Linked DNA regions of Homo sapiens: region 1 is linked to region 2. A link means that fine-mapping ties the variant in region 2 to the expression of a gene that starts in the linked region. Tissue or cell type: putamen. Region 2 holds a variant in brackets; the other region holds the start of a gene. All regions are shown on one strand. Distances are between the middles of the regions.

Region 1 (5,232 bases), 26 kb before region 2:
ACCACTATATTTCCACACCAGGCACCCTGTGTGGCACCCAATAGTCTCCAGTCTCAATGACATCTTTTATTTTCTCCAATTCACAAAGCTCTTTCCTATGTTGAGCCTTAGCACAAGCTAAGAACATCCAATTTGGAGCACTTTCTCTTTTTAAATGATGAACTCCTTCTTTTAATTCACAGCTTCAGTGTGAGCTCCTTGAAAAGCCCTTTCTTCATTTAAAGCAAAGTACACACACACACACGTGTGCACACACACACATACTCTTATGTGCACACACACACACGGGTTACTCTTTATTCTAGCGTCCTGCTTATCTTCTCCATAGCCCATATGACAATTTATAATTATTTATTTGTTTGTTTCTTGTATAGAAATTTGACTGCAAGTTCTAGGAAGGGAAAATCCATATCCATCCTGTCCGTCTTTCCAACAATTAGCACATCCAAGGCACTCAACAGATAATAGTTTAAAGAACAAAATAATAAATATATAAAATCAGAATTTAATAAACCTATACAAAATTTTAATTCTATGTTACATAAGAAATTAGCTTTAAATAAAAGTGGCATCTTAGACCAATAGTGGAAAAGTGCATTATCCAGTAACTGTCTAGGATTGACTGAATAACAAAAACTAAGCTGACTCCCTTTGATATAGTTTGGATGTTTGTCCCCTCCCTATCTCCTGTTGAAATGTAATTCTCAATACTGGATGTTGGACCTGGCAGGAGGTGTTGAATCATGGGGGTGGATCCCTCATTAATGGCTCGGTGCCATCCCTTTGGTGATAAGAGAGCTCTTGCTCTGCGTTCACACATGATCTGGTTGTTGAGAAATGTGTGGCACCTCTGCACTTCCTCTCTTGCTCCTGCTCTTGCCATGAGACATACTGGTTCTCCATCACTTTCCTCCATAATTGTAAGCTCCCTGAGGCCCTCCAGAAAGGAAGCACCATGCTTCCTATACAGCCTGCAGAACCATATGCCAAAATAAAACCACTTTTCCTTATAAATTACCCAGCCTCCGGTTCTTTCTTTATAGCCATGAAAGAACAGCCTAACACACCCTTCCTTCCTTAATGTATGTCAAAATCAATTCCAGATGAATCAAAGATATAAGCCTTTGAAAATTAAGCCATTAAAAGAACTTGGAGGAACACTTATGCAAGAAGATTTAAGCATCTTAATGCAGAAATGGTTTTTCTAAGCAAGTCAAAAATAAAAGACTGATATATTTGAATACATCAGAGCTAATACTTTCTTCACATATATACCCTCAAAACAAACAAAGACAAAAGATAACAAACTGGGGAAAAATAATTGTTACACTTCATGAAGGCCTAGATTTTATTATAAATAAAGTGTTTTACAAACAAATAATGAAAATACTAATAACTCAAAAGAAAAATAAAGACCACAAACAAGCAAACCACAGAAAAAAATACACAAATGGCTTTAAAGAAATGGGATATACAATTTCCAGGATATCAAATGAAAGAAATGTAAATTTAATAAAACACCATGTTTTTATCTTTGAAGTTGGCAGAAATGACAAAGTTTGACAATATTTAGTGTTAGCCAATATGTAGGGAAAATCACACTGGTATATTCATATAGTGGGAGTGAAATTTTCATTTTTTTAAAGTAAGCCTCATGGATCAGCTGGTCTTTAAGAGTGGTCCAGCATTTTATGTCAGTGTGGAGGACAACTTGGCAACAGCTATCAGAATTTTCAGTGCACATAGTCTTTAGCCAGCAACTCTATTCTAAGATTTTATTCTACAGATAAGAAAGCACAACAAAGATGTGTATGAGATATTCATGCAAAAGATCAAAAACAATCTAAATGACCTTCAACGGTAGACTGATGAAATAAGGTTTGGTTCATATCCATAACAGTTGACTACATGGCCACTGAAAAAGAAATGTGCCAGTGTCAAATATCTCTTTAGTATATGAAATATACACTATATTAAGTGAAATAAGCAAGGCACAAAAAGACAAATATCACATGTTCTCCCTTATAACAAATATCACATGTTCTCCCTTAAATGTGGGAGCTAAAAAATTGATCACATGAAGGTAGAGAGTGGATAGATGGAGAAAAGAGACTGGAAAGGGTGAGTTGCGGGGGAAGAGGAGAAGTGGGTTAAAGGGTACAAACACACACTAAGATGGAAGGAATAAATTCAGTGTTGGATAGTAGAGTACGGTGGCTGTACTCAACAGAAATCTATTGTACTCAGGCAAACACTCTCAATACCCTGACTTGATCACTACTCATTATATGCATGTAACAAAATGTCTTATGTACCACATAAGTTTGTACAAATAAAAAAAGAAACATGTTGTAATAATCTCAGAAAAAAAAAGGAAAGACAAGAAATATGCAAGGCATGGAACAGAATACATTGTACAAACCCATTTGGTGAGGAAGAAAAGACAAGTTGGATCAAGATAAACAGAGAGGTAGGTAACTAGACAGGCAGACCGACGGACATAGCTGAATATGCATGGACCACTTCAGGAAGGACTCACGGAAAACCTCTGGGGGAAGGAAAAAGGAAGTCAGTAGGCCGACTTTTCACAGGACCTTTATGTATTATTAGAAACAAATTTACCATCTGCACATATTACTTTTTAAATTCAAAACTCAGTAAAATTTTTTAAATGATCTAGTGTAATGCAATGTAGCCTTCGAAAAATTCTCTGTAATAATAATAACAATGTTAGTAAAAAATAGTAATATTTTTCTATTTGGTTAATGCTTTCATTACTAAAAGGCATAATATTTTAAATGAACACCAGAATATGAAAGAATAACTCAACAATTCAGAAGTGAGGCAGGTTTAGTCTTTTAGGTGGGAAGAAGCTATTCAACTTTAAAAGCCTAAACTTTATTTATTAAGAAGTATATTATTTTAAAAACATGGGTACCAAGGAAACCTGGGCAGTCTAAGTTTATCTGTAGCTAGAGCCACTCCCTACCCATCCCCAACAATGTATTCAAATTCAGTGCCAAAAGTTACTTATTAAACACAAGAGATATTATGTCCGGGGGGAAAACTGTTGTAAACTTTGCCTGTAGGAGGACTGATCTCTTGATGAAATACAGAAAAACCATCTCAGAAAAAGGAAAATGGGCAATCGTCATGTAAGTACTCATTGCCTTTGGGAATTGGTTTTAATTTTGGTTAGCATGTGGAAGAATTTAAACTATAAAATCATGACTGATACTTGTATACTTTATCACTATGGTTACCCTTTAATATTGGTTTTAGCAACAGCATACCATGCTTTTAAAATGCATTGAGGCCGGGTGCGGTGGCTCACACCTGTACTCCCAGCACTTTGCAAGGCCAGAGTGGGCGGATTACTTGAGGTCAGGAGTTTGAGGTCAGCCTGGCCAACATGGTGAAACACTGTCTCTACTAAAAAAATTAAAAAAAAAAAAAAAGTTAGCTAGGTGTGGTGGAACATGCCTGTAGTCCCAGCTACTCAGGAGGCTGAGGCAGGAGAATCATTTGAACCTGGGAGGCGGAGGTTGCAATAAGCCGAGATTGCACCACTGCACTCCAGCCTGGACTACAAGAGTGAAACTCCGTCCCAAAAAAAAAAAAAAAAAAGCACTGGGGATATATTATTCCCTTATTGGCCAAAAATCTCTTAAGAGGGGCTAAAGAGAAAGAAGTATGTAAAATAAGGCAGTAAATAGTGCCTTGCAGAGAGCAAATGGTTAATATGTATCTGTAGAATGTATAACTAAAGCTGTTAGTTTGTAGCAAATTTGTATAAAACTTCATAAACTAAGCCCATTCAGAGTTATGTGGGAAAGATAGGTTCATGTTGCAAATATTAATAGACCAAGGTAAATACTCATGTAAGTCCACACAACTTGGATTGCAAGGTGAAAATATTCCATTATTATTTCTAAACATCCACATATTTGCAAATATCCATGGAATGGACTTAATAATTTACATTTCTTTTGAAATGTTTAGGCTCCTGAATAGTGTGTCTATAAATAGTTAATGACTAAAAACTGACTAAAACACTACCTTTTGGAACCAACTACACACAGGACAGATCAGAGTTGAATCTTGAATATTTTTTACATTGAAGTATATCTAAAGCTATTCCAATACAAATCTTAATAAGGTTTTGTGTACCTGCTGTAAATTTCCACAGCAAGAATGATATATTTCATGCACACTATGAGCAGAGAATAAAACTCCAAAACTTTCTGTAAACTGTTACTTTGTCTATAAGGTTTTTCCTTCGCTATATATTCAAGCTGCACTCAGATGTTTACAAACTTACAAATATATTCTTAGGAAAGGCATTGTTTTTCAAATCATCTACAAATAGCATTTTCATACCAGCAGAGATTATGAGCCATCCGTTCAGTGTATCTTTCAGAGAAACTGAAGCCTATTTTTCAAATATTTCTGATAGATGCAGAGGACCCCAGGAATAATCAATGGACCCTGCATTCACAGCTTAGGAGGATAATTTTGTCTTTTGAAAGTCAACCTAGGGAGCAGCTGGCCTTTAGGAGTGGACCAGCATTTTTATGTATTTTTTTTTAATCCTCAGAGCCAGTCGTACACCCTCTCAGAAGGCAGTCAACAGTTGCCTAAAGGGGACTCCCAACCCTCGACAGTCGTGCAGCCTCTCAGCCACCCATCACGGAATGGAGAGCCAGAGGCCCCACAGCCTGTAAGCACTTTATTTTCCCCCCAAATCATAGGTATGACCCCTGCTCTGTCATGGGGCCAATATGAGCCCCCAGTGATCTGTCATGTTGGACCCTCCACCAGCCACCAGCCATCATCAGGTGTGACTTCCAAGCAGGGAAATCTTTCCCTGCAAAAAGTTTGTTACTGTATTTACAGGTAATGTAAAAATGAACTCTTCTAGGGGCTTAGTTTCTGTTCCCAACAGTGTCTCATTAACAACTCCTTGAAATCAAGCACATGAGGCTACACCAGGACCACTATGACATTTCAGAAAATAGTAAAGGAACTCAACATGTGCACAAAGAATGAATACATGTAAAAAAGTAAATACAAAATCTTTTTAAAGAACAAAAAACTATCCCAGTAATGGCTTAACTTATTTGCATTAGAAAGTTACTTGAATATGTACAAACAAAACTAGAATGCTGGTGGTTTTGAAACAGCTACACAACCAAAACAAATATATAAATTAAATGATAATGTTATAAGTCA
Region 2 (5,232 bases):
GACCTCAAACAAATTATCTAACCTGCCTGAACCCAGGTTTCCTTACCTGGAAGGCAGACTAGTAATGCCCACTCTTCCCTATGCATAATGAAGAAAGGTCTATAAACTGCCTGGCACACAGCAGGTGTACAACAATGTCAGTCCCCTTTCTGGCTTGTTTCAGGAACAGATGCTGCGAGATGGGGCATGCCCTCATGTTCCAAAAGGCAGGGAGGTTATAGGTGGCCCTGATGTTCCTTTCGGCTCTAGGAGTCTATGATTCTCCATTAACTAAAGCCTCAAGCCAACTCACCTTCAGCCCACAGATGTTAGCCAGGACACTTTGGATCGCAAGGATGGAAACCCAACTCATATTAACTTAGACCAAGGAAGTTTGCTAGCTAATGAAACGGGGAAGCCCAAGGACACAGGCGCTGCTGTGTCTGAGGATTTGTACAATGTGATTCTTTCTCTCTCTCCCTTTATGTAGTGGACAAAATGGGCACTAAGAGCCCTAGACTCACGCACTTTCACTGTAGCAGACTCAGCAGGAGGCAGACGTGTATCTCTCTCAGTATCTATGTATCCACCAAGGGAAAGACTCTAATTGACTCTAATCCTGCTTGGATTACATCTTCACTCCTGAACCAATCCTGATTGCCAGAGTCACAGGACACGTGCCTACATTGGTGACCAAGGGCAGGACAAAGGGGCTCAAGCCTCATGACTGACAGCCCCAGTGAGGCCACACAATGGGGGAAGGGGAAATAAGGAGAATAAGGATGCCATGCAGAGAAAGGCAACATACCCACTGAGCTGCATGTGGTTGACTGTTCACTTCCACTGGGTGCCAAAGGATATGAAAGCAGGGAGAGTTGAACTGCGGTGCTACTGCCAGTAGCACTTAAACCAGCCTTCACTGAAGGATGGAAAATATATGGACATGCCGGGCGCCGTGGCTCACACCTGTAATCCCAGCACTTTGGGAGGCCAAGGCAGGCAGATTGCCTGAGCTCAGGAGTTCAAGACCAGCCTGGGAAACATGGCAAAACCCCATCTCTACTAAAAATACAAAAAATTAGCCAGGCATGGTGGCGTGCACCTATAATCCCAGCTATGGGGAGGCTGAGGCATGAAAATCACTTGAACCCAGGAGGTGGAGGTTGTAGTGAGCTGAGATCGCACCACTTCACTCCAGCCTGGTTGACAGAGAGAGACTGTGTCTCAAAAAAGAAAAGAAAATATATGGACACATATCACTTAGGAAAAGCTCCATGAGAAAAGGCAAAGACAGGAAACTCAGGGTGTGTTCCTAGCTACCAGCTGCATAACTACAATTAACCTCACAGGTTAATTGCAGTTTTTAATAGTTATGTGTTTATATTTATGGTTACCTTCCATTTATGCAAGCAATACTGGGTTTCCATTTTTGTGCTCACAAAAATTTCCTTTTTAAGATAACTTTAAGTAAAAACAAATGTCAATTTAAAAGAAAATAATAAGCAAATAATAATTATAAGCAAACAATAATTTCCTTATTATTTAGACATAGGTAACTGTGGATGCAATAGTGCATGTATTGTGCCAATGACTGAAGTATGGGAAACAGCTCAATACACTATATAAACAGGACTTTACCTTCCCAAGGAGCACTAAAACCAAAACTGTGCTTTTACTGGTTCCTACAGTATCTCCAACAAACCAAATATGTATCTCTCATTGTATGGATGGCAAAGATCCAAGTCACCATATGAACCTGTAATAAGGTCCTAGAACCCTCAGCCTCTGACCTATTCCTTAGACATAGCTGTGTCTCATGACAAAGGGGGAGAACAAGCACTCCAGTACACTGGCTTACAGTATTATTCTTTGTTTCAGAGGCAGACACACAAAGGTGGGGTTGATATGAAAATCTCTCATTGCAGAGCTGGCCAGGATGATTGTCCTTGAGAACAGAGGGGCCCATTCTCCTGGTCATCCAAGGCCAGCTGGCCCCAAGGAGTACCAGCCACCTCTCTGGGGCCAGAGTCTCCCCAGCTGATTTCCGCATGTACCAGTGTGTGAAGTGACAGCTGGTCCCTGGTTAGGATGACTATTTGGTCCTCCAGTTTGCTACCGATTTTAGCCAGAGATCATTTAGGAATGCGTATATTGTCATCTCACCTTTTCAATTATTTTCTCCAGGCTAAAGCGAGCAGTCCTCAGGGTTTTGATGTGGATCGAGATGCCAAAAAGCTGAACAAAGCCTGCAAAGGAATGGGTATGAGAGATATTTTGTTGCTAATTTGCTTCTGAAGTTGATTAAACTTGGTCTCATGTCCAACTTCCCCATGATGTTAGGAAGCTGACATCTCACTATCTTGTGTATTCCGAGCTAACGCAAGTCAATCACTTCCACTAACCTCTTTATTAAAGTTCGCAAAATTACAGTAGGATCCTATTACTTTTCAGGATTCTATATAACAGCTAGGAGTTGGATATTGTGACGTTTAATTTGAACTTGAGGTGAGAGAAACTTCATGAGAAGTGCAGTTCATGCAATCCTGGTGTATTAGTCTGTTCTCACACTGCTAATAAAGACATACCCGAGGTGGGGTAATTTATAAAGAAAAAGAGTTTAATGGACTCACAGTTCCACATGGCTGAGGAGGCCTCACAAGCATGGCAGAAGACAAAGGAAGAGCAGAGGGACTTCTTATATGGCAGCAGGAAAGAGAGAATGAGAACCAAGTGAAAGGAGTTTCCCCTTATAAAATCATCTGATCTCGTGAGACTCATTCACTACCGTGAGAACGGTATGGGGGAAACTGCCCCTGTGAGTCAATTATCTCCCACCAAGTCCCTCCCACAACATGTGGGAATTATGGGAGCTA[C/T]GATTCAAGATGAGATTTGGGTGAGGACACAGCCAAACCAGCCAAACCTGGTATGATCTAAACCCCTCTGATCCCTTCCCTAGGAGATGGTGGGGAATTGAGTCTGATGAGAGCCGGATTAGGGACCTGGAAGCAGCATGTAGAAGTAGATCGGCCGGGCACAGTGGCTCACGCCTGTAATCCCAATACTTTGGGAGGCCGAAGCAGGCGGATCACGAGGTCAAGAGATGGAAACCATCCTGGCCAACATGGTGAAACCCCATCTCCACTAAAAATACAAAAATTAGCTGAGGGTATTGGCATGTGCCGGTAATCCTAGCTACTCAGGAGGCTGAAGCAGGAGAATCGCTTGAACCAGGGAGTCAGAGGTTGCAGTGAGCCGAGATTGCGCCACTACACTCCAGCCTGGGTGACAGAGAGAGACTCCATCTCAAAAAAAAAAAAAGAAAAAAGAACTAAATCAAGTGAGTAACTGGCCAAGATCAACCATCAAGGGTTGAAAATGGAGAAGCTGTTTACATCCTAAGGGTCAGTGCATGGCCAAGAGTGGGGGACTCTGCAGGAAGTCAAAACAAAGGTAGACCAGGGACCAGGGTGGGATGAGGGAGACAGCATCTAGGTCTAGGGCCATGAAGAGAGGCCCTGGGATCCAAGGAAGCCACTCATGACACAAGGTCTAGTCCCAGAAGCCTGGAAGAGGGTGACATCCAAAGCACAGATGGAAGGATTTCCCTTGAACAGGACAGGGAGGGAAGGTACTGAGACTGACAGCTGGAGTAGATGCCTTCATAGGTGTTGTTGGGGCAGAAATTGAAGGCATCCATGCCTGGTAACCTGACATTGCTCAGTGAGTGGTAGGTGAGGTTGTCTGCTAAAGAGAAGGGTTTGACAATGGAGTATGGGGCTTGAGTGGTGGCTTGAAATAGCCCTTGAGTAGCAGAGAAGGGGGAGACGACCAACAGAAGACTGCTGATACACACTAAGGGCCCCACTGAGTAGGGAGATCATGGTTTCTCATGGCTCCAGCCCACATGGTTGTGTGATTTTCCCCTGTATCCTTGGAGGTAGGACGGGAAAAATTGATTGACTCTGGGCTTGCTGATCAGGAGTTCCAGAACAACAAGCAAGTGAAATCATTGAAGGAGACAGAGGGGTCAAGGGGCAAAGTGGATTAATTTCCTAGATTTTCTTTTTTACATTTATTGAGAAACGGTTAAACTTTCAGGCATTGGACTAAGCACTTTATATACAAAATCTCATCAAGTTCTTACAAAAATCCATTTTCCAGCTGAGGAAACTGATGACCTGACATTTTAAGTAAGACAGCCAAAGTCACCAAGCCAGTAAGTGGGGAACACTGTGATTGAACATATTCTTGTCACTCACTCCAAATGCCACCAATTTAGAGACATCCTAGCTAGGGCACCTCAGCCACATGGCTGCAGTCCTGGAGGGGGTGGGGACAGACTGAGAAGACATTGCTCAGTGTCATTAACAATAGGTAGGAGCCATGTCAGTCCACAGAATGTTTTATTAAACTAATTTTTTGCTTATCGAGATATAATTTGCATACCATAAAATTCACCCTTTTGCAGCATGCAGTTCAGAGTTTTAGTATATTCACAGGATTTTGCGACCATCTCCACTTATTCCAGAACATTTCATCACCCCAGAAAGAAACCTCACACCCATTAGCAGCCCCTTCCTCCCTTCACCTCCAGGCAATCACTAATCAGCTTTCTGTCTCCACAGATTTGCTTATTCTGGACATTTCACATAAATAGAATCATATGATATGTGGCTTCTTTTACTTGGCATAATGTTTTACAAAAACAAGTGATAGGTTTTTTACATAGAAGTGGATTAGTAGAGATTTACTTTCCTAGAATGGGTGTCATGGTAGAATAAATATGGCCACAAATTTTTTGTATGGCTCCAGAGGAATAAAACTTGGATCCATGGTAGAAGTTCCAAGGAAACATATTTTGCTTTAATATAAGAAACTTGGCTGGGCGCAGTGGCTCACACCTGTAATCTCAGCACTTTGGGAGGCCAAGGCAGGTGGATCACCTGAGGTCAGGAGTTTGAGACCAGCCTGGCCAACATGGTGAAACCCCGTCTCTACTAAAAATATAAAAATTGGCCGGGTGTGGTGGTGCACACCCGTAGTCCCAGCTACTCGGGAGGCTGAGGCAGGAGAATCGCTTCAACCTGGGAGGTGGAGATTGCAGTTGAGCTGAGATGGCACCACTGCACTCCAGCCTGGGTGACAAAGAGAGACACCATCTCAAATATATACACACATACATATATGAAACTTATCTAGCCATAGAATGGTAGCCTTGCCCAAGAAATGTTGACAAGTCTGCAGGAGTTGGGA

Evidence for each region. PIP is the estimated chance that this variant, and not a neighbour inherited with it, causes the effect.
Region 1: ANXA13 starts here. The variant in region 2 is fine-mapped to the expression of ANXA13 in putamen (GTEx, PIP 0.91).

Annotation. Positions count from the first base shown.
Region 1 is chr8:123,735,243-123,740,474 of GRCh38, reverse strand. It overlaps ANXA13 (annexin A13), which reads left to right and starts at 3,082. Exons shown (of 11, transcript NM_004306.4): 1 at 3,082-3,155. The coding sequence starts at 3,141. All of the region lies in intron 1 of LOC105375739 (a long non-coding RNA gene), which reads right to left.
Region 2 is chr8:123,709,685-123,714,916 of GRCh38, reverse strand. It overlaps ANXA13 (annexin A13), which reads left to right. Exons shown (of 11, transcript NM_004306.4): 2 at 2,164-2,239. Among named protein-coding and RNA genes, the nearest start is that of ANXA13, 25 kb to the left of the region's middle. The variant C/T (reference allele first, on the strand shown) is at 2,853.